3 separate regions of the Homo sapiens genome follow, and regions 1 and 3 are each linked to region 2. The links come from fine-mapping of genetic effects on gene expression. A gene starts in region 2. Each other region holds a variant in brackets. All regions are shown on one strand. Distances are from middle to middle. Region 1 holds the start of LOC101927297 (a long non-coding RNA gene). Region 2 holds the start of DCK (deoxycytidine kinase). Region 3 overlaps DCK (deoxycytidine kinase).

The links.
Region 1: its variant is fine-mapped to the expression of DCK in T cells (TOPMed, PIP 0.97). The same link has a PIP of 0.9 or more in visceral fat.
Region 3: its variant is fine-mapped to the expression of DCK in whole blood (TOPMed, PIP above 0.99).

What each region holds. Positions count from the first base shown.
Region 1 is chr4:70,667,492-70,678,731 of GRCh38, forward strand. LOC101927297 (a long non-coding RNA gene) reads left to right here and starts at 11,167. Exons shown (of 4, transcript XR_938860.3): 1 at 11,167-11,240. The variant T/A (reference allele first, on the strand shown) is at 5,266.
Region 2 is chr4:70,987,674-70,998,913 of GRCh38, forward strand. DCK (deoxycytidine kinase) reads left to right here and starts at 5,976. Exons shown (of 7, transcript NM_000788.3): 1 at 5,976-6,253; 2 at 10,394-10,509. The coding sequence starts at 6,163. MOB1B (MOB kinase activator 1B) reads left to right here. Exons shown (of 6, transcript NM_173468.4): 6 at 1-495. RefSeq lists a silencer at 5,712-6,051 and an enhancer at 6,222-6,401.
Region 3 is chr4:71,023,944-71,035,183 of GRCh38, forward strand. DCK (deoxycytidine kinase) reads left to right here. Exons shown (of 7, transcript NM_000788.3): 5 at 1,873-1,988; 6 at 2,722-2,812; 7 at 5,409-6,971. The coding sequence ends at 5,435. Among named protein-coding and RNA genes, the nearest start is that of DCK, 36 kb to the left of the region's middle. RefSeq lists an enhancer at 4,835-5,335. The variant C/T (reference allele first, on the strand shown) is at 6,560.

The DNA.
Region 1 (11,240 bases), 320 kb before region 2:
ACATGGTGAGGGCCTGTAATCCCAGCTATGCGGGAGGCTGGGGCAGGAGAATCGCTTGAATCTTGGATGCAAGAGGCTGCAGTAAGCCGAGATGGCACCACTGCACTCTAGCCTGGGTGACAGAGGGAGACTCTATCTCGAAAAAAAAAAAAAAAAAAAAAGAAGCGGGTATATACCAGATAAATAAGTTGCCATATTTTAATTTGATAGCATTAAGACGGACCTTCTGTCTAGTTACACCTTTCAGAATTGCAAACCCATAAGATGATTTTTGAGATGCCTCAAAAGCAAACTGAATCACTGCAGTATTTTGTGTAAAATTTTTTTCACTTAATTAATGTCATTTTTTTTAACTGAGCTTTTGGACAGAGCACCCCCTGCACTCCCACTCCAACATGCTGGAATTTCCTGTCTCTTAGGCAAGGTTGGTTCCAAGAATATGCTGGTTACACAACAGCATCAAATCCGTGTTACTTCTGGTTCTCAGCTCTAATTTTTGAAGGGACTCCTAGAATTTTAAGAGGTAATTAGGAGTACTTCAGAATCATAAGTAAGGCAAGCAGACTTCAAAGCTAGAAATACGAAATGACAGGATGAAAGAGACATTAAAGGCTAGCACATGATTGCACTTCTTCAGAGTATGTATTGAAAGTCTGTAAGAACAAAGTGTCAGGCACTGTCATACGCAATATTACTATACTGTCCAAGTTTATTCCTATTTTAATTTCTACTATCAGTAGGACTTAGCAACTACTTGAGTTTAGGGAAAATATACTGGCATCACATGGACAGTTTATTAAAAAAAGAAACAGACCTGAAAGCACATTATTTTAGTTTGTGGTCAGGAGGTCAAAACAACTATCAACCACTCTAAAAGATCCTCACCCCCAACTGAAGTTTCTAAATAACTGACTTATTCAATCACTCAAAAAAAAATAGTAATTAATAGTCAGCTGGATACCTTTTTAATTCTTGAAAAATAAACTCAAGGCTAGACTGCCTTCCCAAAGCAAGTTGAGTAAATCCTTGGGAACAAATTAAAACTTCTCCAAAAGTTTCCTTTTTTATAACAGCAAAGATTATTTAACTCATAATTACTAACCTAAAGAAAAGCTCTATATTTGATATTTTCATTCTTCCAATCTTGCTTTTTTTTTTTTTTTTGAGATGGAGTTTTGCTCTTGTTGCCCAGGCTGGAGTGCAATGGTGCCATCTCGGCTCACTGCAACCTCCACCTCCCAGGTTCAAGCAATTCTCCTGTCTCAGCCTCCTGAATAGCTGGGATTATAGGCATGTGCCACCATGCCCAGCTAGTATTGTATCTTTAGTAGAGACGGGGTTTCTCCATGTTGTTCACGCTGGTCTGGAACTCCTAACCTCAGGTAATCTGCCTGCCTCGGCCTCCCAAAGTACTGGGATTACAGGCGTGAGCCACTGCGCCTGGCCAATCTTGCATTTTTATATTTCGATTATGTAAACTATAAATCTAAAATAAATTGCGTTAATAAAAATAAAGTGTGACACATTTGTCATTAGAAGAGAATTACCTATGCTGGCAACATAGGATCTGGACTAGTGTTTTGCCTTGTGTGCTCTAGGGATCATCTGACTAGAACCACTTGTAGTACTGGTTAAAATATGGATTTCTTGGTAACACTCAGAATTTCTGGAGATGTGACCTTGGAATATGTATTTTCAAAAAGCATCCCAGTTGATTCTGATGTGCACTGAAGTTTGAAAACTAATGGAAAAAAAGACTGGCCTAGGGCAGGAAGTAAGGGAGTGCAGAATAACTAGCAGCAATAACTATTTATGGAAGAACAAAAGATTAATAAAGGTAATTTTTAAATAAATAGCCATACTGAAAAGTTAGCTGAAGTTTGTATTTGCTTATAATTCACTATAGGTAAGCTGTTGCATATTCTTTTTATCATTAACCTACTATATACAAATACAAGTTCCAGTTTAATTTTTAAACCACTTCTTTGCCAGTTTTAGTTATGTTTTTGCCACTAAAAAAATGTCAAATGTGAATAGTAGAACCCTTTACATGTGTGTTAAGTGATTGAGAACTTAGCCATGTGTTCTAAATTCTCAGCAAAAAAAGAGGCTTATTTTTCTATACTCACATTTAAGATTTGTGTAGTAAGAGATTCAGTGATAGACTCAGCTAGATGAAAGAGATCTTAAAGGTAATTTAGTCTCACCTTCATGACTCTCAATTTTTTTTCAATATTCTATATAACCGAATTCAGCATTTAGTTGAAAATCATCCGAAATAGTTGGATGCTCCACTCCCTGTGGACACAACTCATTATATTTTGGGATATTCAAATTGTGACAAGATTTTATTCTCATGGGACACAGAGAATGTAACTCCCTGTTTTCCTCCTGTCTCACTGGTGACTCCTTCTGGGTCTCTTGCCAAATTTTCCTCTGAATATTGAGGACATCAAGGCTTAATCCTCATCTTTTCTATTCTCTTAGCCTCTCCTTAATTAATTTTACCTTATTCCATGCCTTTAAACATAGGGCACACTGAGGACTCTCAAATGTATAACTTTAACTTTTACCTTGCCCATTGAGTTCTGAATGCCTATGTCCAACTTTTTATTTTATATCTCCATGTAGCTATCTAAATGGGTATCTAAACTTAACCAGGTAAAACGGTATTCTTGATGACCAATCCATCCTCACACTCACATACCAATCTCTTTCTGTCTCAAGTTTTCCCCCATCTCAGTAAATGACACCTCCATCAGTTACTCAAGCCAAAATCCTCTTCTTTGCTTCCTTTCTTTTCCTCTCCCCTACATCCAATTTACCAGCATGACCTGTCGGCTTTCTCTCCAAAACATATCCCAAATTCATCTGATTCTCTCCGTTTTCACTACCAACCTAGTCCAAGCCTCCATCCTCTTTCCTGGACTACCATAATAGCTTCTATAATTAAAAAGTAACTTTTCCTTTCCCTCAGCATTGGTGACTAAGGCACACAGATCATAAACAAGAATGACTAAGTACCACAAATCTAAAGCAAGCCAAATATTTCCTCCAAGGTTTGTTAAGAGGCAACGAAGCCAGACACAGTGGTGCATGCCTGTAGTCCCAGCTACTCAGGAGGCTAAGGCAGGAGGATCGCTTGAGGCCAGGAATTGAAGGCAAGGCTAAGGAAGATAACAGTAGTTTTCAATGTATAACTATTATGTACACATACAATTTTTTTCTAAAAAGAGGCAACAAAACTCAATCTACTTCCATCAACCACCACTCCACCGCTCCCATACACTCCCATCTCATCTTTAGAAGACTAGGGAGGGAAGAGGGGGGATGTTATAAGAGCAGCTGTTACCTTGTTGAAATCATAGTGTTTGTAATAAGAGACTCCCACACACATATCCCACCTCGCTTCACCCTTGGGAGAGTAGAGAGTAAAGGTGGGGCACCTTCCTCTCCCCAGATTCAAGTGAGGGAGAGTTTCAAGAAAATCACCCAAGAGATCAGGGACCCTAAAAGCAGGGGAGATTGAGAAGCAATATAGCATAATAGTTAAGAGAAAGGGCTCTGAACCTGACTGATTGGGTTTATCCCCCAATTCCACCACTCTCTAGCTAGGTAACACTGGACAAACCTTGAACAAATCACTTAATCTCTCTTAATTTCCTCTATCTGTAAAAGGGGGAAATAACAATATATGCTTCACAGGATTGTTGTCAGGTTAATATTTATTACATCTATTACATCATGTGAAGAAGTTAGATCTTGGCACACAATAAGTGTTATGTAAGTACTAGTTACTTATTATTATCATCGTCGTCATCATTATGTCTTAACTCCTTGTGGAGTTGCAGAAAATGCAGCTACCAACTGCAATGAAGTTTGGGGAAAGCATTCCTGGGAGAACCTGACATGGCCCCTTGGGTTGTGGATGTGCAGGAATATCAAAAATGATACATGATCATGCTATATAAAGTATAAATGAAAATGTCCAAAGTTTCCAACTTAGGATGGGTGAGGAGGAAGTTCACTTGGAAGATATGTTAGCTTTATTTGTAATAGCCTAAAGCTGGAAGCAGTCTAAATGTCCAAAAACAAATTGGATAAACAAATTGTGGTATATCCATTACTCAATAATAAAAATGAATAAGCTATTAATAGACACAATATGGATGAATCTCAAAATAATTATTCTGAGGGAAAGAAGCCAGATAAAAATTTTTTTAAGAAAGTACAGGCTGGGCACAGTGGCTCACTCCTGTAATCCCAGCACTTTGGGAGGCCAAACTGGGCAGAACGCAAGGTCAGGAGTTCAAGACCAGCTTGACCAACATGGTGAAACCTTGTCTCTACTAAAAATACAAAAATTAGCCGGGTGTGGTGGTGGGTGCCTGTAATCCCAGCTACATAGGAGGCGGAGGCAGGAGAATCGCTTGAACCCGGGAGGCAGAGTTTGCAGTGAGCGAGGTCGCGCCATTGCACTCCAGCCTGGGCGACAGAACAAGACTCTGTCTCAAAAAAAAAAAAAAAAAAAAAAAAAGAAGAAGTACATAGTGTATGATTCTATATTTGGATATATTTATATTTTTTTCTAGAAAATTCAAACAAATGCATAGTGACAGCAGATCAGTGATTATCTGGGAAGGTGGGGACAGAGAGAAGGGAAGGCGGGACTATAAGTCTATAAAAGGACATAAGGAAGCTTTTGGAGATGATGAATATGTTCATTATCTTAGTGGTGATAATGAATTCACAGGTGTACACACATGTCAAAATTGATCAAATTGTACAGTTCAAATGTGTGCAGTGCACTGTATGTCAGTTACATCTCAGTAAAGCTATTAAAAAGTTCACATCTTCAGAATTCAGTTTTTTAAGTATGATGTTAGGTTTTTCTTGGGTGCCCTTTACCAAGTTGAGGAAGTTCCCTTCTCTTCCTGGTTTGCTGTGAGTTTTTATCAGAAGTGAACATTGAATATTTGTCAAATATTTTTTCTCTGTCTATTGAGATAACCATATGGTTTTCCTTTTTTTGTTTAATATGGTGAATTACATTTATTTTTAAATGTTAAACTAACCTTACATTCCTAGAATAAACCCCACTTAGTTATGATATAACATCCTTTTCATAAATTTTGAATTTTATTTACCAAAATTTTGCTTAGAATTTCTGCTTTTATATTCATGAGGGATAATTGATTTAAAATGTTCTTTTCTTGTAATGTCTTTGCATGGTTTTGTTACTACAATAATGCTGTCCTGAAAAGA[T/A]GAGTTTAGAAGTATTTCCCCCTCTCCAATTTTCTGGAGGAGTCTGTGTAGAATTAGTATTATTTTTCCTTAAATGTTTGGCAGAATTCCTCCAGTGAAGCCATGGCCTGGGAACTCTCTCCAAGGCAACATGGGGCAATGGTCTCCTTATTTGTTTCCAGTCTCTCCGAAATCACTGTCCTGCATTGCCTAATGTCTTGAAAACCAGTGTTTCTTCCGCATGTTCTCACTCACAGGTGGGAATTGAACAATGAGAACACTTGGACACAGGATGGGGAATATCACACACCAGGGCCTGTCATGGGGTGGGGGGAGTGGGGAGGGATAGCATTAGGAGATATACCTAATGTAAATGATGAGTTAATGGGTGCAGCACACCAACATGGCACATGTATACATATGTAACAAACCTGCATGTTGTGCACATGTACCCTGGAACTTAAAGTATAATAATAATAATAATAATAAAAAGAAAACCAGTGTTTCTTAAATTTTGTCAGTTTTTTCTAGTTGGTTCAAATGGCAGGGAAAATCTGCACCGTTATTCCATCTTGTTTAGCATTGGAGACTTGAAATTAAGAGTGAGTTTGAGATACAAGCTTTTAGACTGAACTAGACTTTTAAAAAATGAGCTTTACTATTTATGGCACTTTTACAATCACAGCAAATAAACTAGATTTTTTAATAATGAAAAAATATTTTTAAATTACGGAATCTTCTTAAAACATTGTCAAAAAGGCAAAGAAAAATTCAATTATAGTAATTGAGAGGCAATAATTGGACGAAAATATGGTTTCATGTTATAACTCATTAAACTGTTCACTGTTCCAAACTCTTCTCTAGTCTTACCTGCCACAATTCATTGTCCACTTACCATGAAAAGTGATCTTTTCAAAGGTAAATCAGATCATATCTGATTTAAAACCCTCCAGTGGCTTCTCATTACACTTAGAATAAATTCAGAGTCATTAGCCTTCCTGATTTCCTGCAACTCCCCCTTCCACTCATCTCTCTCCAGCTACTCTGCTCAAGGCTTTCGTATTGTCTTAGTCCCTCTGCCTGCAACACTTTCCATAGCCTTGCATGGCTGGCCCCTTACCACCAAGTCTCAATTCCAATGTCATTGCCTCAGAGAGAAATTTTCTGGCTGATAATCTTCCTAACCAATTACCAATCATTATCATATTGCCCTGTTTTATTTTCTTCATAGTTTTTATTATTGTTTGAAATTCTTTAGTTTACTTAGTCGTAACTGTCTCCTCCTCATTAAAATAAAAGCTCCTTAAGAGCGGCATTGTCTTGTTGCTTACTTCTGTTTCCAAGAACAAGCGCAGGATTGCCTCAAGTATATTGATTGAATGAAGGATGAATGGAGAACGTTTTTACAAGGAGTTGAAAACTGCCTCTAAGTTTATGTCTTCTAACAATATTAGTCTCTTTTGTGGATAGGCTCCATATTGTCAATGTCCTATTTAAAGAGTAGTATCTAGATACATATTCAATAGTCAAGTGTAATCTGGACAGTACAAACAACAGCTGAACTTAACATTTTTCAATAAATCCCACTTAAGATGATAATATCTCTTTTTTGGCAGCTATGTTACACTATTGGCTTCAATTAAAGTGTACAATCTCATTTTTAAAAATATGTTTCTATAAAGTAATGACTTTCCCATATTTAAAATTTAAACAAGTTAGGATTTGGGCATGAGATTTAGCATTGGTCCCTAAGTTTTATCTTGCTAAACTCAGACCAACATTACAATGTCTCAGATTCTTTTTAAATCCAGATTCAGAAACCTTGCACATTAGTTCTTTCTCTCAGCTTTACAGTATCTGCAAACTTGACACATGCCATCGGATCCTTACTGAAGTCATTAAGAAAAATGTTTAATGGGATAGTGCTTAAGATAGACTTTTGCAGCATACATCTAAAGTCCTATCTCTATCAATATCAGTCCATTAATAAGCACATTTTGGGTGCAGTAGTTCATCTCAAGTTAACTCATAATCCATACTATCACACAGACTCAAAGTCTGGGTTTTATCCATAAGGTAACATGAATACTTATCATAAAAGGCCAATCTCTCCTTTATTCTCTATTTTAATGTCATCTCATTTCTCCCCTTGAAAGCCTTCCCTAATATAAAAGGAGTCTTGATAGCAGCCTGGCATTTTGCCACTTGAACTCTTAAAAGGGACGATGATATTTTTTAACAGGCTTCTTGGCCTTAAATCCAAAATGCAGCTGAAATCTCTTGATTTTCCTTTTAATGGATTAATTTCTACATTTAGTGTAATAATTCACATTTCCCATTTGTCCTTGAACTTTATATGGAAAACAAATTTTACTAATAAATAGTACTGCTTAATCAGCTCTAAAAATTAGGAGGGAAAATATGAAGTCTACAAGAAACCTTGAATTAAATGTCAACCTGTAAATTCCAAGTAACCCAAAAATCTTTTAGATTTAGAAATAACTTATCAGTGTTCCCAAATGTGCTAGAAAAAAGAAATCCTTTTTGTGTGTGTGATACCCTAAATATATCTGACAGAATCTTCAGTATTATTATAAGTGGTAAGTGAATTGAAAGAGCATCATCAGTCCTGGATCTCCCTAAAAAGTATCGTCTTTCATTTCCTTAGCACTCTCATGAATATATTCCAGAATCTATTTATTTCAGAGGACATAAAAAGAAATAATTTTAAAAGAATACTGTAAAATGTATACTCGAGATAAGCATTTTATATCTGACAAATTTACAAAGTCTATTACAGAGGAACTCCATGACTACTTTTACAACCAGGTATATATAACAATCCCAGAAACCCAGAATTAAATGACACACTTGCAAGGAATACAGAGAGGAAAGTAAGATATTTATTTCCCTAAAACATAGATTCTAAAATATGTCAAATGGCCATTGAAAGCACAGCCTTTAACTCTTCTCCGTGTATACCATCTCTCTAACTTCTATACGTTTGAGACACTAGACAATACAAAAGTAACTTTTGAATCAATCCAGAGAAATAAACTGAAGGAAGATTCTATTAGCACTGAACGAAAGATCTGCTGCCAAGAGAAGCTAACAGCAAAAACCATCTCCACTCCATCAAAAACCATCTCCACTCCAACAAAGTGGAAAATTCATTATATGTGTGTGTATATATACTTATCATGAATATATAACTGCTATTAACTTAATACTACAAAACTAAAAGTCCCCAAATATCCCAGAATTTCACAAATCAGTCAAGCATAAAATTACTAACAAAGGATAAAGAGGAAGATGTTTTTTGTGTTGTGTGTTTTTTGTTTTTTTTTTTTTTGAGATGGAGTCTCATTCTGCTGCCCAGACTGGAGTGCAGTGGCGCAACCTTGGCTCACTGCAACCTCCGTCTCCCAGGTTCAGGCAATTCTTGTGCCTCAGCCCCCCGAGTAGCTGGGACTACAGACATGCACCGCCACGCCTGGCTAATTTTTGTATTTTTAGTAGAGACGGGGTTTTACCATGTTGGCCAGGCTGATCTTGAACTCCTGACCTCAAGTGATCCACCGGCCTCAGCCTCCCAAAGTGCTGGGATTACAGATGAGAGCCACCGCGCCCAGCCTGGTTGTTTTACTATGACAAAACTGAGGTATAGCCCTTGATCTGACAATCGGTCCTCCTACCAAGATCCTTGCTGGGTTGCTCTGAACTTCCTAAAACTCCTATAGGGCACTCTGTGTCCAAATCCACAAGAGCACACATGACTTATCTGGAATAATTATCAATAAAAGTTTTAAAATATGTTTAATAATATTAAGGAGTACAGAAGCAATTGCAACTATATTTGCAATGTTTGGGAGGGACATTATTCTGCCTAACCTAGAGTCAGGCAAACACTATTCCAAGAAAGGAAACAACAAGTAAAAAGCACAAAATAAGAAAGAGCTTGGCCCACACAGGATGAGGAGCAGGAAGGAAGGCACTTGTAGCTGCAGCAGAGTGAGGGGGAGAATCATAGTAGATAACAACACCATGCACTTTATAGGATTAACTTTTTTCCCCCATTTTTTTTTTTTTTAGATGGAGTCTCTCTCTGTCACCCAGGATGGAGTGCAGTGACATGATCTCGGCTTACCGCAACCTCCGCTTCCTGGGTTCAAGCGATTATCCTGCCTCAGCCTCCTCAGGAGCTGGAACTACAGGCATAAACCACCACACCTGGCTAATTTTCGTCTTTTTCAGTAGAGGTGGGGTTTCACCATGTTGGCCAGGCTCATCTCAAACTCCTGACCTCAAGTGATCTACCCACCTTGGCCTCCCAAAGTGCTGGGATTACAGGCGTGAGCCACCATTCCTGGCCTTTTCCCCCATTTCAATTGTACAAGCTTAGAATCTATTTTGAACTTCAGAATCAATCTTAGTCATTCTAAAGCTAAAGGTAGAGAGCCTAAGCCTCTTAACTTACAGTCCATTTTACCTCTCACAATACCAAGAGCCATTAATACTATTTTTTCACATCTATATGGAGAAATTTCTTCTAATTGGCATTTTTTGGGGGTGGGGGAATTGAAAGATTAGACTGAATCATTTCACAATGTGATGTTTTGATTATGTATACCTTGTGAAATGATACAAAACTTAGAAATCTGTAATTTAAATAAGTGAAATAATCAAAAATGATTTTGTCTAACAAAAATGCTTTAGCTGGCTGAACACGGTGGCTCATGCCTGTAATCCCAGAACTTCAGGAGGCTGAGGTTGATGAATCACCTGAGGTCAGAAGTTTGAGACCAGCCCAGCCAACGTAGTAAAACCCCAGCTCTACTAAAAATACAAAAATTAGCTGGGTGTGGTGAAGTACATCTGTAGTCCCAGCTACTTGGGAGGCTGAGGCAGGAGAATCACTTGAACCCAGGAGGAGGCTGCAGTGACCCAAGATCACACCGCTGCACTCCAGCCTTGGCAACAAAGCAAGACTCTGTCTCAAAAAAATATATATATATTTAGCTATTTTTGCAGAGATATACACTGAATGATTTTTTCTGATATTATATAAGCATTGAATGATTAAAAGTCAAACAGAGCATTTTTACTCAACTTTGATACCCTTTGATACCCTCCTTCCTAATCTTTGTGACTTCCAACCTCATTAAATGTCTGATAATACTAACTGCCATTTTTTAACCCTAAACATTTTCGTTCTTATATGCAGAGTTTCTTCAAATATTGATCTCTATCCAAGCACAGTGTATGTAAAATTTATATTTAGATATCAGGAGGCAAAAGCTGGTCAGTTGGGTGCAGTGGCTCACGCCTGTAATCCCAACACTTTGGGAGGCCAAGGCAAGCAGATCATTTGGGGTCAGGAGTTAAAGACCAGCCTGGCCAACATGGTGAAACCCCATCTCTACTAAAAATACAAAAATTAGCTGGGAATGATGGCGCATGCCTGTAATCCCAGATACTCGGGAGCTGAGGCAGGAGAATTGCTTGAACCTGGGATACAGAGGTTGCAGTGAGCCAAGATCATGCCACTGCACTCCAGCCTGGGCGACAGAGTGAGACTCCATTTCAAAAAAAAAAACAGAGGCAAAAGCTGAATTTAAAAAAAAAAACCCTCAAAATATGAAGAAGAAACTTCATTCCAAATTCTTACTAAAAATTAAAAAATACAAACCAAAAAATTGACTTCTTTTTCTCGAACAGCTTTCCACATAGACTTTTAGGGTAGTCCTTCTGTGGTTAAATGTTTATGAGGAGAATTGCACCTGTGTTGTGGTCAGCTTTTAAATAAACTTGCACCTGCAGTGGTTTTTCATAGAATTGCTGTTTGAGAAATTACATGTCAGTGGTTTGACCATCACACAGAGCTATTTCCCTTCACCATATCACCTGCCAGGCAGGTCCTAATTTAAAAAGGGCCTACTTCCAAAAATTCATTTGAAAAAAAATCTGGTTAGATTTCATGGTAATCTCTCCAGGGA
Region 2 (11,240 bases):
GGAGAATACAGTATATATGAGAACACTTAAAGTTCAAATAGAAATCATTTCTGAAGACAAAAGCAGAGGAATATTGTCAGTGCCAAGTAATGGAAGAATAAGGGCGGCATTTACACTGTGCAAGTATTGAGAAGAGTGCATAAAGACAGGGAACTACTCTCATGGAGACAGTTTCTCTCTTATAATCAAGTAACTAGAAGGGGAAAAATCATCTAAGTTATGAAATCCAACATAGGCGCTATATTACAAACTGTGCCGGATTATGCAAATTGTAGTTGTTACTGATCAAAGTTTAATTGCTTCATTTTTGTTTAAAAAGGGATACTGATGTCAGAAAATCTGTAATATGTTTTATTCAAAAGATGTAAATAATGTATACAGACTTGTATGTGATGGGATGGGAAATATTTAAATTCTAGGTGTTTTTTTTTTTTTAAAGAAGAAACTCAATGTTTATAAGAAAAAAATGAATAAATAGTTACGTTTGGCCATGAATCCTGACTTTGCATTACTGTTTATTTTTGCTATAGGCATTCCCACACTAAACACATTCCAAGGGAAATATTGATGGCATATGGAATATGTTGAACATTTAAAATTTGTTAGGCACTATTTTCTGTAATGTTCACAACAACCAGTGTCTTAACATCTTAGAAAACTAAAGCTCAGAAATTGTACAAGTCACTGATTTGGATTACGGTTTTAAAACCCTACTGTGTCTGAACTTGAAACCAGTGTTTCTGTTTTACTTTTTTCACTTTTTTCTTTATTCTGCAGTATGCAGGTGTATGTTTTCTATAATATATACTATTACAGTGAGAACAGTTAGCACAGTAATAATCATTTGTTGACCTCTTCACCAAGCTATTATTTAATATTTTGTCTTCATTACAGATCATTAAGGAATATTAATAATATTGGAGAATCATTTACCAAGTTCCAAAAGGAAATGTGTATTTTATTTTATTTTATTTATGAGACGGAGTCTTGCTCTGTTGCCCAGGCTGGAGTGCAATGGCACGACCTCAGCTCACTGCAACTTCCACCTCCTGGGTTCAAGTGATTCTCCTGCCTCAGCCTCCCAAGTAGCTGGGATTACAGGCATATGCCACTATGTCCGGCTAATTTTTTGTATTTTTAGTAGAGACAGGGTTTCACCATGTTGGCCAGGCTGGTCTCAAAACTCCTGACCTAAGGTGACCCATGAGCTTTGGCTTCCCAAAGTGCTGGGATTATAGGCGTGAGCCATCGCGCCTGGCCAAAACGTGTATTTTAGAAGTCTTCTCAGAGTATCAGAAGTATTTATGTTAGAGGCATTTGTGTTTGAATCTTCAGGTTAAGAATATTTAATGGTAGTAGCCACAGTTGCTCAAAGTCACTAATGGTATTTGGGAGAAAGACTAGTTGAAATGCTAGCCAATGCTGTTGTGGACTGTGTCTGCATGCTTTAAAAACGCCCTGTGGGCCGGGCGCGGTGGCTCACGCCTGTAATCCCAGCACTTAGGGAGGCCGAGGTGGGCGGATCACGAGCTCAGGAGTTGAGACCTGCCTGGCCAATGTGGGGAAACCCCATCTCTACTAAAAAATACATTAAAAAATTAGCCGGGCACGGTGGCGCTTGCCTGTTGTCCCAGTTACTCGGGAGGCTGAGGCAGGAGAATTGCTTGAATCCGAGAGGCGGACTGTGCCACTGCACTCCAGCCTGGGCGACAGAGCAAGACTCCGTCTCAAAAAATAAAAAAATAAAAACACTCTGTTATTCATTTATTGTGTGTAAAGAAATATATATTGTAAAATTACCTACATTTTGATAATTAGGTTCATTTACCTCTGTTGTACTAAATGTATTATAAGTTGTTAATCCCTTATATAACATCTGCAATGAGCATTTTGCAACACAAAGATTCTAATTAATTATTCCTCTAAGGTTTAAACAACCATGTTTAGTAGAAGTTTTACTAAGAAATTGTACATGCTCCTGTTACAGCATGATGAATACAGTGTCACATTTTCTTGATGACCTCAGTCCACTTCACAAGCATGTAGTAAAACAGCTTTCTTTGCTAAGCTGTATACATCTGATGGCTCCTATGCTCTTCTAGTATGTTATTTTGCTTTCAGATTTCAGATTTGCAGGAAGCACACTGACTCCCACTCTTGCATTTATGATGGCTTCTGTACCCCGTTTTCTAGGCACTAATGAAGATTACAAGGGGAAATTTATAACCAAGCTTATTAAGTTGATAAATATCATTTTACAGAAGTAGTTGAGTTTGTGTAGACAAACTCATGGGCTGTGTAACCACTACTTAATGTTCAGGGTCTCTTATTTTTTCTGCTTTTTATTATTTTCTGGGTTGATTTAGTTTTCCTAATAAACCTGTATGTTGTCAGTCAGAACGCTGTCTCATTCTTTAGTTACACTAGAATTCCCACAGGAGAAAATTCCCAAATTGAAGGAGTAGTAAAATTTCTGGTAAGAAAGGATTAGGTGGCAGCACGATCATGACTGGCTGGGTGCGCTGTATCCTGTCTCTTATCTGCAGTTTCAAAACCTGAAAAGCTCAGAAAACCAAAATTTTTTTGTTTGTTTTTTTGAGACGGGGTCTCACTCTCATCCAGGCTGGAGTGCAGTGGCATGATCTTGGCTTAATGCAACTTCCGCCTCCCGGGTGCAAGCGATTCTCCAGCTTCAGCCTCCCGAGTAGCTGGGACCACAGGCACACACCACCACGCCCGGCTAGTTTTTGTATCTTTAGTAGAGACAGGGTTTCGCCATGTTGGCCAGGTTGGTCTCGAACTCCTGAACTCAGGTAATCTGTCCATCTCGGCCTCCCACAGTGTTGGGATTACAGGCGTGAGCCACCGTGCTTGGCCCCAAAGGTATTTTTTTTGAATTCAGTGCAAACTTATTCTGACCAGATGTTAATAGTCTTTATCCCACTTCATGTTAACACTCTTTGTTTCACTGCAAAATATTAGTGCATTTGATTTAACACCTCTGCAGGGGGAGTGGGGGTGCTTACTTAATAATTAATATACAGTATATGCACTGTATCGTTTCTAAAGTTTCGATTCCAAATTTTATTATTGAGACGGGGTCTTGCTGCTGTGTCACTCAGGCTGGCATGCAGTGGCGCGATCATAGCTTACTAAAGCTAAAACTTTGCAGGCCCAAACCATCCTCCCACCTCAGCCTCCTGAGTAGCTGGGACCACAGGTGTGTGCCACCACAACCAGCTAATTTTTGTATTTTTTCTATTAGTTTCGCCATGTTTCCCTGGTTGGTCTCGAATTCCTGAGCTCAAGCATTCCAGAGTACCTCCCAAAGTGCTGGGATTATAGGCAAGAGCCACTGCGTCCAGCCAGTTCCAAAGTTTAGAATTTCTTTTCTAAAAATCTTTTCTAAAAGTTTTAAATTCTGAAACATCTGGCTGCCAGGGTTTTAGATAAGAGATTGTGGACCAAAAATCAAGATGTTTTGAAAAGTGCTTTTCTCTGTTCTCTCCTTGTGTTACCCCCAGGTCATGTAGGAAAATGGGAAATTATGCTGGACTTAATGCCAAAAAAGCTAGATTCTTTGCTTCCCCCATTTACTTTGTTGTTGTTAGTTGAGACAGGATCTCACTGGAGTACAGTGGCATGATCTTGGCTCACTGCAGCCTTGACTCCCTGGCTTCGGTAATTCTCCCACCTCAGCCTCCCAAATAGTTGGGACTACAGGCGCCTGGCTAATTTTTCTATTTTTTGTAGAGACAAGAGTTTTGCCATGTTGCCCAGGCTAGTCTCAAACTCCTGGGCTCAAGCGATTCACCTGCCTCGGCCTCCCACATTTGTATTTTTCAAAGTATACTCTTAAGCTCAGATGAATTCAAGTTTTTGCAGCCAGAAACTGGTAGAACTGGTGTTTGAAATCTTTCATTTTCCAGTGCTTAAACTCTTCATCATTGTAAGATACTTCTTGTGTGGGTCTTTTTTGTGGAAACCACACTTGGAGATTTCTACTCCTTAACCCCAAGCCTCTTTATGACATCCATCCAGGACCAGCTCTGCTTTCCTGTTGAAGGTCTCAAGAGACTTGCCTTCCTCCTCTCGGTAGCTGCCAGTACTCTTACCATTTCATGAGTTTTCCCCCAAGCTTGGCTGTGAAATGTGATACCTATTAGCTTCCGCAGCACCTTTCTCCCAACTTCCTTGCTATACCTGATGACAACTCTTCAGGCCTCTTATATTCCTAGGATCTTGCTATTAATCACTATAGGGATAAGTAAAAGTAATATATACAAAATAATTGCATAACAGAATAATATAGGGCAGTTACATAGAATGATTCTTGCTGTTTAATCCTGGAAAATGTGATCCCCGAGGATTCACATTTTAATTTCTGCTCTTTATTTCTGAGGATGGAGTCACCGTTTTCCCCTTCTGGCTACACATTTAGATGCATTTCAGGTCTGATGATAGTTGCAATGTAAAAAAGAATAGCAAGGCCTTTGGTTTCTGTAGACAATTTGGACCAGATAACTTCCAGACTGGGTAATATCCGGTTTATTAGTGTTACTGGATGGGAAGTCTTGACTGAGTTGTCTGGGTTTTTGGCGTGTTGAACAAAGAATTGAACAAAACGTAGAAACAAAGCAACAAAAGAAGCAACGAAAGACAAAACAACAAAAGAACGAAGTAACAAAAGCACAAATTTATTGAAGCGAACCAAGTGCTTCAAGAGTCCCAATTGCAGTGTTCTTAAGGGTTACTAGGCTAAAAGAATTTGGTAAATCCCTAGGTGCCCTTTACAGTCGTCCAATTGGTTGCACCCTATGAAGGATTGGCCTGCGACCAATCAGAGGCTGAAATGGAGATGGCCGAGGACAATCAGAGGCGATGTGGAAACTTCTGTCTTGTAATCACAGGAGTGAAGGTGTGGCCTGTATGCTGCCTAGTCTTGCCTAGAAATTGCTGCACCTGCTGTTCTTTTGCTTATGCCTTAACCCTTGGTTACCCTAATTCCCTATTCTCTTGCCTCATTAGGTCTTTACCCTGACTAAAAATGCACTCATCTAGCTGGGACAAATCCTACACTGCATTTGTCCCATCTAGATGAGTATTCTAGCAGAGTACATGGCACATGAGTAGGCATTCAAAAATTCAACATACAGTACATTTTGTTACCTATGTGCCAGGTGTCGGGCAGGCTGAGTTAACAGCTGAACAGAAACCTACCTACCCAACGTGCTAACTTCTATACAGCATGGTCGTGCATCCAAATCAAATGGAAAGCGGTATGGGAGATCTGGAAAGGCCTCCTGTGGGTGGCATCTGACTACCTAAATTCCCATCCCAGTTTCACTTACTGACTTTGACACTTGGAACAAGCAGCCTCTCAGTGCCTGTTTTCCCACTGGCAGGTAAATGGGCTAATGACGGTATTTCTGGCACTAGACTTCGTTAATTAATGAAAAGCACATAGAAGAAAACAGCCTGGCTCTCTAAGTGGGCAGTGCGATTCCCAAGGACGGCACTTCGCCTGATAGTCTTCCTCTAGGCTGAGAAGCCAGAGTAAATCCATTTGATTTTCCTACCACACAGTGCCTTCTCCCCAGATGAGTTCAAAGCTTTAAGTCTATCCAGTTCTGTCCAGACGCGTCTGTTCATCTCCAACAGGCCCACTAGAGAGGCGGGTTTTCCAAAGCCTGGCACGGCCCACTGCAGGTGACGCCCTCTGCCCTCCAGCGCCCTCAGGCCTCTGGGGTCCACCCTTCCTCCCCACCCGACTCCGGAACCTCTTCCCGCGCCCTGCCCGGGCGCCTGGCTGCTTGGGGTAGAGGCCTTCCGCCACACGCGCGGCCCCGCCCCGGCCTTCACGTGACCTGGCGTGCGGAGCGCGCACGCGGGAACCCGCGCTGGAGGCGGGCGAGGGCCGAGGGGCAGCTAGGGAGCGCGGCTTGAGGAGGGCGGGGCCGCCCCGCAGGCCCGCCAGTGTCCTCAGCTGCCTCCGCGCGCCAAAGTCAAACCCCGACACCCGCCGGCGGGCCGGTGAGCTCACTAGCTGACCCGGCAGGTCAGGATCTGGCTTAGCGGCGCCGCGAGCTCCAGTGCGCGCACCCGTGGCCGCCTCCCAGCCCTCTTTGCCGGACGAGCTCTGGGCCGCCACAAGACTAAGGAATGGCCACCCCGCCCAAGAGAAGCTGCCCGTCTTTCTCAGCCAGCTCTGAGGGGACCCGCATCAAGAAAATCTCCATCGAAGGGAACATCGGTAAGGAGCCTCCGGAAATGTGGGACGCAAGGCTGGGGTGTCGCGGCAGTGGCTGAAGCTTCCCTTCGCCGCATCTCTCTGCAGCAACTCGGTGAGGGCTTTCCCTCCAGCCTGGCGGTGTGGACGCGGCCTCGGCTTCCTTTCCCACCCAGAGCATCCTTCCCTTACCTCCCGCTCCACGGGGTGACTGCGGTCCCCGGGGTCAGACTGGGCGCCAGGCCTGCGGTCTCTGTGAGGCGCGCTTTGAACCTCTGCTCCCTCTTTGTTGGGAACTCGCAAAGGGAAGCGGGGGAAGGGTATTAGATTTCTTGAGGTGTAACTTACATTAAATTCACCCTTTTTAGGTGTACTCTTCTATGAGGTTTGACAAACATTATGCCTTTTGCTATCACCATGATCGAGATACAGAACATTTTCATCACCTTAGAAAGTTCCTACCTGCTCCTTTGTATTCAGCCCCCTCCACCCTTCCTATTCCCTGGCACCCACTGATTTGATTTCTATCCCTGCAAGTGTTGCCTTTTCCAGAATGCCATATAAATGGAATCATAGGCTATATCGCCTTTTGTGTCTGGCGTCTTTCATTTAGCATAATGCTTTTGAAATTCATTCATGTTACTTGTGTCTGTAGTTTGTTTCTTTTTATTGCTGAGTAGTATTCCATTGCATGGATGTACCATCGTTTATCCATTTTCTAGTTGTGGACCTCAGGGTTGTTTACAGTTTTTTAGCTATATTATTAGCGAAGCATTGTTTTAGCTATATTATTAACGAAACTCGAAACATTCGAGTACAAGCAAAGAGGTCTTTAATGATCTTAATAGCATGGAGTTCCTCACCCCTTACTCCACATCCAAGTAAACATTGGATTATGATTCAAAGACCACTAACGTTTCTGTTAACTCAGATGGGGGGCAGACTAGGCCATGCCTGTCACTTTGCAAGATACACACCAACGTCCGATTCTTCTGTATCTCCAACCACAGGAAACCTACCCCTGAAACTTCCTGTTTTGATAGATTTAAAAAAAAATTTTTTTAGCTCCAGGTTGGGTGCTGGTCATTCATGCATACAGCAAATTTTTTAAAATTCTTACCACATTCAAAGCACTGTACCTTCTTGAAAAAGGCCAGGCAAGCAGATGCTTTAAGCATTCAAATGAATAGAAAAACTGCATTCTCAAAGAGGACTTCTTATTTCATTGCTCCAGAATTAAAGCACCAGTAGAAAGACCATATGATATAATTAGCAATGTAAGTTATTTGAGGGTGCATGTTTACTAGTATGGAATCTCTGACAGCTGCTTACTGAATAAAGAAGACCATATATAAAGACAGGAGAAAGTGGCTGAACAAAGCCATCTGAAAAGTAAATTTGAGGCAGGGCATGGAGGCTCATACTTGTAATCCCAGGATTTGGGGAGGCTTAGGCAAGAGGATCACTTGAGTCCAGGAGTTCCAGATCAGCCTGGGCAACATAGTGAGAACTCATCTCCACAAAAAAATTAAAAAATTAGTTGCATGTGTTGGTGTGCCTCCAGCTACTCAGGAGGCTGAGGCAGGAGGATTGCTTGAGCCCAAAGATCAAGGCCACAGTGAGCCATGATCACACTACTGCACTCTAGCCTGGGTGACAGAGCAAGACTCTGTTAAAAACACAGAAACAAAACAGTAAAGTTGAATGAATAACCCCTCGGATCAATACCACAATACATTCATCCCCTTTCCCTCTCTCCAATCCAGTTAGGTAGCATCATATTTAGAAATATTTCCTCAAAGCATCTTTAATCTTTTCAGCAGCTGAAATAATTTCCTAATATATCATCCCATCTCCAGTTTCTCTTAACTACTTCTGCAACGGTCTTTTTGTATGCAAATGTCATGTGTTATCCCCTGCTTAAAATTCTTCACTGATTTTGCCTTTACCTACACTGAAAGTAGTTGTGAACTGATAGCCTGCAATTGCACAATATTGGCCTGCACAGGTTGAAAAAAAATTTTACTGGCCAGTGGCTCAAGCTTGTAATCCCAGTGCTTTGGGAGGCTGAGGCAGGAGGATTGCTTGAGGCCAGGAGTTTGAGACTAGCATGGCAACATAGTGAGAACTAGTCTCTAAGAAAAATAAAAATAAAATTAGGCCAGGCACAGTGGATCACGCCTGTAGCTCCAACTACTCAGGCGGCTGATGCTGATGTGGGAGGATCACTTGAATGTGGGAGGCAGAAGTTGCAGTGAGCTGAGATGGCACCACTGCACCCCAGCCTGGGTGACAGAGTCTCAAAAAAAAAAAAAAAGCCAGTTGTGTTAGCATGCACGTTTAGTCCTAGCTACTCAGGAGGCTGAGGTGGAGATCTTTGAGACCTATAGTTTGAGGCTGCCGTGAGCTGTGGTTGTGCCACTGCCCTACAGCCTGGGCTACAGAGTGAGACCCTGTGTCTAAAGAAAAAAAAATTAAATTTGTTGCTAACTCGAAAACGTTTTGAGATTTCCCATAAACAATTAGATTCTTGGCTTCTTTTGAAAAATCTGAAGATCTGTTAACACCGGGCCTGCATTTCTGTATGACAACAATTGGTGTTTAGATGGAGCATGTTCCTTGCCATTTTTCGTCTCCCTGACACTGAGACTTTGTTAGTTACTGTTCATTATTGGTCTTGCACTTTTGTTCATGTCTCCTTCACCTTATTTGCCAGATCCAAATAAGCTGTAAATGCACAAATTGTTAAGCTGTGCGTAAACTATTTTGCAATTCCTCTATTTTTCCTAGAATTTGAACTTTACTTGGTCGTTTTAGTTTTATATTTATATAACCCATCTTCTTATGTTCTGTGTTACTCAAATGTTCCCTTATGTTAGATTGATGGAGGACTTACCTGCTTCTCATCTTAATAGTCTGTTCAGAATGACTTTCAGCATTATAATGCCTGCTTGGCATTAGGAATTCTGTTAGTTTCCATGACTTTTTAAAGTATTAACATCAGTGTCTTTGGTTCTTGTTCTCCTTTGCCTTCATAGAAAATTAATTTATTAATTAGCTTATTTTCTAGCTCCCACTTTGCCCCAATAAGTTAAGGAACTAGATGTGTTAGTGTGATTGGGAACTCTAGCTGTTATTACTCTGCTTGAACTAAATGTAACTGTTATTACTCTTAGACTTTTTAAGTATGACCATATGAATTTTTCTGCTTGTAAGCAGTGTCAGAAGAAAGTTGAATGCTGTAGCCTTAAGTGCTTTCAGACTCTGGTGGATGCCTAATTTTTTTATTTGTTCCTTGGGTGCTATTTCTGAACATCATGTTCTCCTTTCCCTCTTCCATCTAGCTCAGTGAATGTGGGGTGTTCTTTCTATATGCTTTCACTTCCACTTAACATTCTTCTAAATGCTGTACAGTCCCTAAGCTTACACTCTCCATACTAAATTTTGGTGGCCAGTGTTTTTACCATGATTAAATCTCACTGTTATCCAGTTTATCGTTAAAAGTTTTTCTCCTCTCCTCTGGATACAGTTTACTTTGTGTTTTTCTTCTAAACTGTCTACCTGTGTCACCTTCTTTACTGCCTCGCTCCTGTTTTTTCTCTGTGTGTAATTCTTTAAAGTTCTTCCAGGTTTTTCTTCTTTTCTATTGCCCTGTCTAATGTCCTAGATTTAAATATAGTTCTGCAAGTCAAAGGTAAGTTCTTTCTACTCCCCATGGATCTAATTTATAAGGAAGAGGAAGCTTTGCTTGTAAGTATATTGAAGTTATTTATATGTTCATCTGTGTGTGTGTGCACGCACACACAGGGAAAGAGAGAGAACATTATGCTAACCAGAGATGTCTAATACAACCACATTTGGTGACTTCAGATATAAAGGGTGTGGTGGCCATTAGGAGTATTACTTCTAGGTCAAGACTGTCCCTACTATTAAATATAATATATTGTTAAACTAAACGTAATAAAAAACAAATGTGCTTAATGAAATTGGGCAGGGAGCCTTTTCATTTTCTTCTAAAGAAATATGAAGAGAAAGTTTAGAAAGTTGAATGTTTTGGGCTTTTTATGTTGCTTGCTATTGTAAATCTTGCAAAAGCTAATGACTACTTGACATCTTTTTTTCCTGACAACTTTTCTTCCTCAATTTTATCTTTCCTCACAACAGCTGCAGGGAAGTCAACATTTGTGAATATCCTTAAACAATTGTGTGAAGATTGGGAAGTGGTTCCTGAACCTGTTGCCAGATGGTGCAATGTTCAAAGTACTCAAGATGAATTTGAGGTATGAAAATAAAATTTAAGTAGATAAAAGCCTCTTGGTTTAGAGGAGCAGTAGTACTTAATCTCTTTTTCTTTTTCTTTTTCAATAAAACTTTCAAATCTCGCTTTAGGTATATATCTTCATCTAGGTGGTGGTTACATGGATATATATACAGTTGGCTCTCCATATCAATGGGTTTCAGATTGATATGGATTCAACCAATCATGAATAGAAAATATTCAGAAAGAAATAATACAAAAAAATACAAATAATAAAGGATTACTGTTCATATAGCATTTACATTGTATTAAGTATTATAAGTAATCTAGAGATGATTTATACTATTTGGGAGGATATATGCAGATACTACACCATTTTACATAAAGGACTTGAGTATATGTGGATGTTGGTATCTGTGTGGAACCTGGAATCAATTCTTGAGGTTACTGAGGGGTGACTATATGTTTAAACATGCATTGAGGCCGGGGTTGGTGGCTCACGCTTGTAATCCCAGCACTTTGGGAGGCTGAGGCGGGCGGATCACTTGAGGTGAGGAGTTCAAGACCAGCCTCGTTAACATGGTGAAATGCCGTCTCTACTAAAAATACAAAACTTAGCTGAACGTGGTGGTGGGCACCTGAATTCCACCTGCTTGTAAAGCCGAGGTAGGAGAATTTCTTGAACCCAGGCAGCGGAGGTTGCAGTGAGCTGAGATGGCGCCACTGTGCTCCAGCCTGGGTGACAGAATGAGA
Region 3 (11,240 bases), 36 kb after region 2:
TATTTTACTCATTATTTCTTTCTAACATTTGCAGACTCTTCTCATTCATCACAGTTAAAGTAATGAATGTGGTCAAGCAACTCCTAGAATATAGGCTTCATGAGGTGGGACCTTGGGCATTTTGATTACTATTGAATTTCCATTGCCTAGAACACCCAGTGCTGGGCACTGTTGGAGCATATAGTAGGAGCTCAGTAAATATTTACTGAATGAATGGCAATGTTGATGGAGGTCCATATCAAGAAATATTTTATTATGGTTGTTTGTGCCTTGGAATGAGTGGATAATGGCAGCTATCGTTGGGAAAAGACTTAGAGGACCCTTGCCATTTTCCATTAAGGGAGCTCACTTGAAAAGGTGCTTTTTGTGATAGGTTGTAACATAGCTATTCTAGTTACATATGATGTTATATAATGAATACAGGATGACCAAATAGATGCCTTTCATAAAACTAACCTAAATATTAAGATCTTACATTTAATCAGAAGCTTTCTGGTTTTGGTGCGTGCATTTCTATTGTTTCTGTTTTTTAATTCTCATTTTTTCCTTAAGTCACAGGGTAGGCACTGATGAATGTAAATGTTATGACTTCTGGCCTAAAATTAGAATACTGTGTTGCTGTCGAAGCTGGGTTTTCAAAGAAATTAGGTTTCCTATTCCAACGGATGATTTTGTTCTTCATTAAGTAAAGATTTTGTTCTTCATTAAGCAAGGATTTAGCAATTTTTTAGCAATTTCAAAAGTGAATTTTGAAATTCACTTTTATTTTTGAATTTTTTTGTTTTTAATTACAAAAATAGTAAATAAAAATGTGAAAAAGAACATAAGGAATATGAATAATTTCATTTTGCTTGAAACATTTATAGTCACTATTAAGCTAGAATTTAGCAAATATAATAATTTTGAAATTCACTTTTATTTTTGAAAAGGTTTCTTAAAGTTATGAAAATAGTACAAACACCAAAAACATAAATAATACTAATAATTTCATTTTGATACTGATAATTTCATCAGTATTGTTTCTGATATCTTTGGATGAAAGGATTGTTTAATTATTGAAAAGAGAATTTAGAGTAGAGTTTGAAACACAGTTTGTATGCTGCCATGGTCTTATGCATGTCATTTAGGTTGGAGGCTTTTATTTCTTGGAATGCATGAAGAGTTTCTCATGGTATATGAGCCCCCACAAATTATACGAAATTTTTTATGTATGTGTGCTTTTGGGGGACCGTTATCTAGAGCTGCACTGTCCAATGTGGCTATTTAAATTTAGGGTTATTAAAATTAAATAAAATTTAGATATTTAGTTCCTTGGTCACCACACTAGCCATATTTCAAGTGCTTAAAAACCACAGGTGGCTGGTGGCTACCTTATTTGATAATGCAGATATAGGACAGGCATAAAACATTCCAAAGTTGTTTTGGTTGTGCTGATATAGAGTTTTCATCACATTAAGAACCACTGTCTTTAGTGGTTTTATGTGAACTGAACATAGATATTTTGTAATCAAGGTTGGTTAACAGCAAAGTAAGATTATGTTTATAGATTGGCATACCTTTTAGCTGTTGTCTCTGAACATTTTAAGTAGATGTTTAATTTTTTTCTCCTTTTTATCAAACTTAGTATATTTCATGTGTGGATGGATACCAAAAATTTATAGGCTTATTTTTGAAAGTACTGCTTGGCTTAGAGCCACCAAGTGGCTGAAAAGCTCATGGAGGGAAAAATGAATTATTTCAGCTTTTAAGAAGTAATAAGTAGAGATTTTGGCTAGCGTGAGTAGAGAGACACAGAAAAGAAAATTTTGATGGCAGCAGACAAGAATAATTGTTCCCTGCCTTTTTCTTCCATCTCTTATTACTTGCTTTTAGACATGCTTACATAGAATATATTTACGGGGAAGAAATGAAGAGCAAGGCATTCCTCTTGAATATTTAGAGAAGCTTCATTATAAACATGAAAGCTGGCTCCTGCATAGGACACTGAAGTAAGACTTATTTTTATTTACTATTCATTTTAAATACCTTTGTTACCTTTGTTAAATTTTAATCTAAAATTTGGAAGATATGACTAGCAATATGTAAAATTTCCAGTCGTTTTGCTTATTGGTATCTTCCAGAACTAGGTATAGATTTTCATTCTCTTGATTGCAATGAGATCCTATTTACTTAAAGTTTTTATAACTAGTATCCCTTGGTGGTATTGATAGCGTAATATGTGAAATTTCACTTTAAGTGATAAAGTAGGAATATATCTGAACATTATTTAGGTACTCTTTCAGAAAGAATTTTGACTTGGGAGATTGTATAGCGTGGTTGTTGAGAGGATAGACTTTGTTATTAGTCAGATCTTGGCTCAAGTCCAGTCTTACTGGTGTGTGACCTTGGATAGCCTCTGAGCTTCAGAATGACAATTCTGAGCTTTAGTTTTCTCATCTTTAAAAATGCAGAAATTCCTACTTTATTGACTGCTATTTGTTTTTGAAGAGAATCATATGTTACAGTACCCAGCTGTATATATTTTGTACCTAAGTTTTTGGGCTCCATATGGTAAATCTAGATGAGAAAGAAGGGGCTGCCAGATGAAGTACTGCAAAGTAACTTTAGTGTAAATGATTGACAACATTTTGATTTTCCAAGGACATACGAATGAATTTTTAATGTTTCTCTCTTTTTTTTGTTGAATTTCTGATTATTTTATTAATCTCTCTTTTTAAACAGAACCAACTTCGATTATCTTCAAGAGGTGCCTATCTTAACACTGGATGTTAATGAAGACTTTAAAGACAAATATGAAAGTCTGGTTGAAAAGGTAGATTTAGACAGACTACAAACAAATATTTGTTTTTTCTAAAAAAGTGTACTGAGTGGTGAGAAAACAATTTTCTAACAGAAAAGCTTCCATAAAGTTACATTAAGAAACAGTTAAGAGCTTTAGAAGATTTTGGACTGTTTAAGATTCCAGTCCTGACTAAATTCTAGCTTTGTGGCCTGAGCTAAAATAAAGATCCTTCGGAATCTCAGAATCTGACAGATCTTAGAAAAAAATTAAATAAATAAAAATAAAATAAGGATTTTTTTTTATCCTTTAGTGCCTCTATCTGTAGGATAGGTAAAATTATAATAACAAAAATTCTTTCTCACCCCCTTTTTCTCTGCTTTGTCCCCATTTCTTCCTCTCTTCCCTACACCACCAATCTTTAGATACTTTAATAATAAACTGCTTGTGAAATTAAATTTATCTTTTTCAACTAAATTCAATATGGAGGATATTTAAAGTTACAGGATATGGATCTCATCTATTTTTATGTTGGCCAAAGTCTTGAGATTAAGGGATTTTAGTTTTGAGTTTCATTTGGGATCATGTCAAGGATTAATTGACATTACTTAATCATTGAGTCATTGTCTTAATCACAGTTCATTTATTGCCCAAATCACTGGGAGTTGACTATATTCTGTTAAGTGAGTGGTGCCCATATTGATAAAGGGAATGGGTGAGAATTTATTGATGAATATTTGAGAGAGAATAGTAAGGGAATTGGTATAACAAATATCCCTATACCCATGTTGATAACTGAGTGATTAAGCTATAAAGAAGAAAGCACAATTTGGTTTAGTTTTGAGAAAAATTTGATTTTTCCTTTCTTTTGTGGCATAATGTCTGCTGTTTAATAGAGACTTGACATTCATAAGGGATATATCAAGGATTTTGAAAATCTTGACATTTTATGTAACTACTGTAGCGTATACATGTAGTTGTTTTTCCCATGGTATGAACTAAAGCTTATCTGGAAAATTCCAATGACCTCTTCATACTACTAATGATGTTAAAAATATAGGATAAATTCACTTACAATACTATTAAATGAAAAGTCAGCATTAAGTATTAACAGCCAACCATCAATTTAACTGACTTTGTAAATCACTTTTTAATTTTATCTAACACTTCTTTGTTTTGACTAAGAATCATTTCACATTATTATATTTACTTTTATTAATAATGCTAGCAGTTGACTTTCTTATTAAGGTATTTTTACAAGGCAATAATTTTTGTTTCTTGAGAATTATTGAGTAGCCTAGAATATGTAGAGAACAAGCATATTCTTACATTATGGTCAGTAGGCTAGGTTCATTGACTCCTTACATGATTTTCTGCACACACTGACATTGCAAAGTATGTGATTCACATATGTGCTTCAGAAACATGACAAATCTACTACATGTTTGATTTTCAAAGTTGCTTGAACTATTGTGCTTATTAATGTTATCAGTGTTAAAGCTGCATATGTCAGTGGTCTATGATATTTAAATGAAGAGATTATAAAATTGGTGTTACAGCTATTTTAGAACTATATCTATCTTAGATTGATAGATGCAGTGGCTCACACCTGTAATCCCAGCACTTTGGGAGGCTGAGGTGGGAAGACTGCTTGAGCCCAGGAGTTCCTGACCAGCTTGGGCAACATAGTGAGACCTCATCTCTATAAAAAACAAACAAAAACTAGCCAGACATGATGGTGTGCACCTAGCCAGGAGTTCAAGGCTGCAGTGAGCTTTGATTGCACCACTGTACTCAGCCTGGGTGACAGAGCAATAAATAACTCCTAAAATGACCTTTTAGGTCATTCATCTTTTACTACTGAAGTATTTAACAATATTTCTTTTTTTTCTCGAGACAGTCTTGCTCCGTCGCCCAGGCTGGAGTGCAATGGCACAATCTTGGCTCACTGCCATCTCCACCTCCCAGGTTCAACCAGTTCTGCCTCAGCCTCCTAAGTAGGTGGGATTACAAGTGCACGCCTCCATGCCTAGCTAATTTTTTTTTTTTTTTGAGACGGAGTTTTGCTCTTGTTGCCCAGGCTGGAGTGCGATGGCGCGATCTCAGCTCACCACAACCTCTGCCTCCCAGGTTCAAGCGATTCTTCTGCCTTGGCCTCCCTAGTAGCTGGGATTACAGGCATGTGCCACTATGCCCGGCTAATTTTGTATTTTTAGTAGAGAAGGGGTTTCTCCATGTTGGTCAGGCAGGTCTCGAACTCCTGACCGCAGGTGATCTGCCCGCCTCGGCCTCCCAAAGTGCTGGGATTATAGGCATGAGCCACTGCGCCTGGCCTATTTTTGTGTTTTTAGTAGAGATGGGGGGTTTCACCATGTTGGCCAGGCTGGTCTGAAACTCCTGACCTTAAGTGATCCACCCATCTCGGCCTCCCAAAATGCTAGAATTACAGGCATGAGCCGCTGCGCCCGGCCTTAACAATATTTCTTTGGAAAGTAAATGCAATGGCATTGTGGTAGTTACTTATACAGCTGGGGTCTTCAACTATTATATACTTTTAAATGAAGATGAATATTAGATACCTCAAATTAGTCAAGGAATTATACTGATTTTTTTTTCTTCCTTTCCTCAGGTCAAAGAGTTTTTGAGTACTTTGTGATCTTGCTGAAGACTACAGGCAGCCAAATGGTTCCAGATACTTCAGCTTTGTGTATCTTCGTAACTTCATATTAATATAAGTTTCTTTAGAAAACCCAAGTTTTTAATCGTTTTTGTTTTAAGGAAAAAAGATTTTTAAAATGAATCTTATGCAAAACTTTTTGACCAGTTTCTTTTCTTTTGTTTTTTTTTTAAAAAAGACATTTAAAGACAAAGACATTATTTCTCATAGCAGGAAATGTAGAGGTAGATGGTTCCAGTATCAGCATAGTGACTAAACTACATTATAAAAGATCCAGCTTCCTTCTGTCATTCCCCTCTTTTGTCTTCCTCAGCAGGTTGGCTTTTTTCCCTGGTGCCTCTCACTTCGTTGGTGACCAGTTTCTTAAACTGAAAGCTTTAATGTTACATAGTAAATGGTAGTGTGTCCTGTGTAAATTAGTGTACCTATTAAAAGTTGCAAAGTGGAATTAAAGGAATCCCTAGAATAAGGATTCTGAAGTTTTATTTTAAATTATTATCTTCTTAACAGTTTAGTCCCACCTCTTACTTCCTGCCTCAGTCTGCTTTCTCTACTGTCTGGATTAATTAGGCAGCCTGCTATAAAGTTAAAGTCACACATTTCTATTTTGCAAACACTGTGATTACTCTTTGCTTTGTAGTTTGCTTTGCTTTGTAGGGTTCTGCTTTTAAGTTTTTCTCTTTTTCAGACAAATTACTGATAAAAATGATATTGCTCTATATGTAATATATCCTGAAAGCATTATTTTTTGTTGAATAGGAAATAAAATTAATGAAGACAGAGGCTAGAAAGCATCCATTAATTAATGAGACACACTTAACTACTTATCTCTAAACCATCTATGTGAATATTTGTAAAAATAATGAATGGACTCATCTTAGTTCTGTATATAAATATATTTTCTTTCTAGTTTGTTTAGTTAAGGTGTGCAGTGTTTTTCCTGTGTATTAAACCTTTCCATTTTACGTTTTAGAAAATTTTATGTATTTTAAAATAAGGGGAAGAGTCATTTTCACTTTTAAACTACTATTTTTCTTTCCAAGTCATTTTTGTTTTTGGTTTCTTATTCAAAGATGATAATTTAGTGGATTAACCAGTCCAGA[C/T]GCACTGATCTTTGCAAAGGAGACTTAATTTCAAATCTGTAATTACCATACATAAACTGTCTCATTATACGTATGCATTTTTTTAGTTTGTTTTTGTTTGGTATAAATTAATTTGTTAATTAAATATTTCTTAAGTATAAACCTTATGAACTACAGTGGAGCTACACTCATTGAAATGTAATTTCAGTTCTAAAAAGATGTAATAATCATTTTAGAATTAAAATTTATTCTACTTTTAAATAAATTATGAATATTAAAGGTGAAAATTGTATAAATTACTTTGATTCCATTTTAAGTGGAGACATATTTCAGTGATTTTTAGTAACCTTTAAAAATGTATAATGACTTTTAAAATTTGTAGAATTGAAAAGACGCTAATAAAAATTTATTATTTATTTGTCATGACTCAAAAGTTGTCTCAGTGTGGTGGTCATAATAGAATTGAGCCTAATGGTGGTCTGGATTATCTCTTGGATCTATTACCTATATCATGTCTTCCATTAGAATTTATTTATTGCTCTTTATAGTTTGCTCTCCTAGAAAGGTAATTAATAATACAAGACTTATTTTTCTCATCCAGAATTTTCTCTTCTGCTATGCCTAAAACTTGAAACTTATACCGAGCCACCTAGAACTTAAGTCTGTCATATGTTAAAGAACAGAGTTGTAAAATGTTTCTAAAATAGAGATATAGATGTTATTGCCTTTGAAAAATGCTAGATACATTGCAACATTAAGTCTGGTAAATAATAGCCTTCTTCATTTGACTAACTTACCTCTTCTTTTAATTTTTTTTTTTTTTTTGTTTTGAGAGAGGGTCTTGTTCTGTTGCCTAGGCCGGAGTACAGTGGCGCAGTTATAGTTTACTGTAGTCTTAAACTCCTGGGCTCAAGCAATACTGCCTCAGCCACTTAAGTAGCTGGGACTACAGGGCTTTCACCACCATGATGGCTAATTTTTTAAAATTATTTTTTGTATAGATGGGGTATTGTTGTCCAGTCTGGTCTCAAACTCCTGGGCTCAAGTGATCATCCTGCCTTGGCCTCCCAAAGCGCTGGGATTACAGGCACGAGCCATTGTGCCCTGCGCTAAAAGCTTTTTTTGAAATAGCTTTAGACTCATAAAAGTTGCAAGAATATTACAGAGTTCCTGTTTACCTGTCACTCAGTTATTTCCCAATGATAACTTTATTTAACAATAATATTTTATCAAAACAATTAAATTTGGTGTACTACTATTAACTAAACTACAGACCTAATTTGGATTTTACCAGTTTTATGTCTTACTTTAATTCATAAACTTTAAAGCATCTTTGGCTGGCTCTTTTTTCGGACTCAGCCCGCCTGCACCCAGATGAAATAGCCTTGTTGCTCACACAAAGCCTGTTTGGTGGTTTCTTCACACGGACGCGAGAGACATTTGGTGCCAAAGACCCGAGTCAGAGGGACTCCTTCGGGAGACCAGTCCCCTGTTCTCACCCTCACTCTGTGAAGAGATGCACCTACCACCTTGGGTCCTCAGACCAACCAGCCCAAGGAACATCTCACCAATTTCAAATCCGGTAAGCGGTCTTTTCACTCTCTTCTCCAGCCTGTCTCGTCAATCTCCCTGTCCTTCCAATTCCAGTTCTTTTTCCTCTCTAGTAGAGACAAAGGAGACACATTTTATCCATGGACCCAAAACTCCGGCGCCGGTCATGGACTCAGGAAGACAGTCTTCCCTTGGTGTTTAATCACTGTGGGGACGCCTGACTGATTATTCACCCACATTTCATTGGTGTCTGATCACTGCAGGGAGCCTGCCTTGGTGATTCACCCACATTCCCTTGGTGGCAAGTCAATTGCGGGGACGTCTGCTTTGGTTGCTCACCCACATTGCAGCCCCGGGCTGCTCGCCCACCCCCTTCCCCGTGTCTCTACCTTTCTCTTTAAACTTACCTCCTTCACTATGGGCAACCTTCCGCCCTCCATTCCCCCTTCTCCCTTAGCCTGTGTTCTCAAGAACTTAAAACCTCTTCAACTCACACCTGACCTAAAACTTAAATGCCTTATTTTCTTCTGCAGTACCACTTGGCTCCAATACAAACTCAACAGTAGTTCCAGGTGGCCGGAGAATGGCACTTTCAATTTGTCTATCCTACAAGATCTAGATAATTTTTGTTGAAAAATGGGCAAATGGTCTGAGGTGCCTGATGTCTAGGCATTCTTTTACACATTTGTCCCTCCCTAGTCTCTGCTCCCAATGCGACTCATCCCAAATCCTTCTTCTTTCTCTCCTGTCTGTTCCTTCAGTCTCCACACCAAGCTCTGAGTCCTTTGAATCCTTTTCTACGGACTCATCTGACCTCTCCCCTTCTACCCAGGCTGCTCCTTGCCAGGCTGTGCCAGGTCCCAATTCTTCCTCAGCCTCTGCTCCCCCACCCTATAATCTTTCTATCACCTCCCCTCCTCACACCCGGTCTGGCTTACAGTTTCCTTCCGCGACTAGCCCTTCCCCACCTGCCCAACAATTTCCTCTTGAAGAGGTGGCTGGAGTTAAAGGCATAGTCAAAGTTAATGCGACTCATCCCAAATCCTTCTTCTTTCTCTCCTGTCTGTTCCTTCAGTCTCCACACCAAGCTCTGAGTCCTTTGAATCCTTTTCTGCGGACTCATCTGACCTCTCCCCTTCTACCCAGGCTGCTCCTTGCCAGGCTGTGCCAGGTCCCAATTCTTCCTCAGCCTCTGCTCCCCCACCCTATAATCTTTCTATCACTTCCCCTCCTCACACCCGGTCTGGCTTACAGTTTCCTTCCGCGACTAGCCCTTCCCCACCTGCCCAACAATTTCCTCTTGAAGAGGTGGCTGGAGTTAAAGGCATAGTCAAAGTTAATGCTCCTTTTTTCTTTATCCGACCTCTCCCAAATCAGTTAGCATTTAGGCTCTTTTTCATCAAATATAAAAACCCAGTGCAGTTCATGGCCCGTTTGGCAACAACCCTTAGATGCTTTACTGTCCTAGACCCCAGAGGAAGGCCGTCTTATTCTCAATATGCATTTTATCACCCAGTCAGCTCTTGACATTAGAAAACTTCAAAAATTGGAATCCGGCCCTCAAACGCCACAACAGGAATTAATCAACCTCACCTTCAAGGTGTACAATAATAGAGAGGAGGTAGCCAGACAGCAACGTGTTTCTGAGTTACAGCTACTTGCCTCTGCTGTAAGACAACCCACAACCATGTCTCCAGCATACAAGAACTTCAGAACATCCAAGCCACAGCTCCCAGGGGCTCCTTCAAAACATCCTTGTGGACCTTGCTTCAAATGCCAAAAGCCTGGCCCCTGGGCCTCAGAATGCCCGGTGCCCAAGATTCCTCCTAAGCCATGTCCTGCCTGTGTGGGCCCCCACTGGAGGTCAGACTATCCGACTCACATCGCTGCCGCTCCTAAAGCCCCTGGAGCCCAAACCCAATGTTCCTTGGCCGACTCCTTCCCAGCTGTCCTCGGCTTAGTGGCTGAAGACTGATGCTGCCCGATCGCCTCGGAAGCCTCCTGGACCATCGCAGATGCTTTGGGTAACTCTTACAGTGGAGGGTAAGTCTGTCCCCATCTTAATCAATACGGAGGCTACCCACTCCACATTACCTTCTTTTCAAGGGCCTGGTTCCCTTGCTTCCATAACTGTTGTGGGTATTGACGTCCAGGCTTCTAAGCCTCTTAAAACTCCCCAACTCTGATGCCAACTTGGACAACATTCTTTTATGCACTCCTTTTTAGTTATCCCCACCTGCCCAGCTCCCTTATTAGATCGAGACATTTTAACTAAATTATCTGCTTCCCTGACTATTCCTGGGCTACAGCCACACCTCATTGCCACCTTTTCCCCCAGTTCAAAGCCTCCTTCGCATCCTCCCTTTGTATCTCCCCACCTTAATCCACAAGTATAGGACACCTCTACTCCCTCCTTGGTGACAGATGATGCACCCCTTACCATCCCATTAAAACCTAATCACCCTTACCCCGCTCAATGCCAATATCCCGTCCCACAGCACACTTTAAAAGGATTAAACCCTGTTATCACTCACCTGTTTCAGCATGGCCTTTTAAAGCCTATAAACTCTCCTTACAATTCCCCCATTTTACCTGTCCAAAAACCGGACAAGTCTTACAGGTTAGTTCAGGATCTGTGCTTTATCAACCAATGGTCTTGCCTATCCACCCTGTGGTGCCAAACCCATATACTCTCCTATCCTCAGTACCTCCCTCCACAACCCATTATTCTATTCTAGATAAACCTAGCTGACCCCATAGATCCTAAATCCTTTCGCCACTCCTTTCCGTTCCTTAAAAACAGCCCTAGAAGCTGCTCCCACAGTAGCTCTCCCTAACTCATCCTAACCCTTTTCATTACACACAGCTGAAGTGCAGGGCTGTGCGGTCAGAGTTCTTACACAAGAGCTGGGACTGCGCCCTGTAGCCTTTCTGTCCAGACAACTTGACCTTACTGTTTTAGCCTAGCCCTCATGTCTGTGTGCAGTGGCTGCCACTGCTTTAATACTTTTAGAGGCCCTCAAAATCACAAGCTATGCTCCACTTACTCTCTCCAGTTCCCATAACTTTCAAAATCTATTTTCCTCCTCACACTTGATGCATATACTTTCTGCCCCCTAGCTCCTTCAGCTATACTCACTCTTTGTTGAGT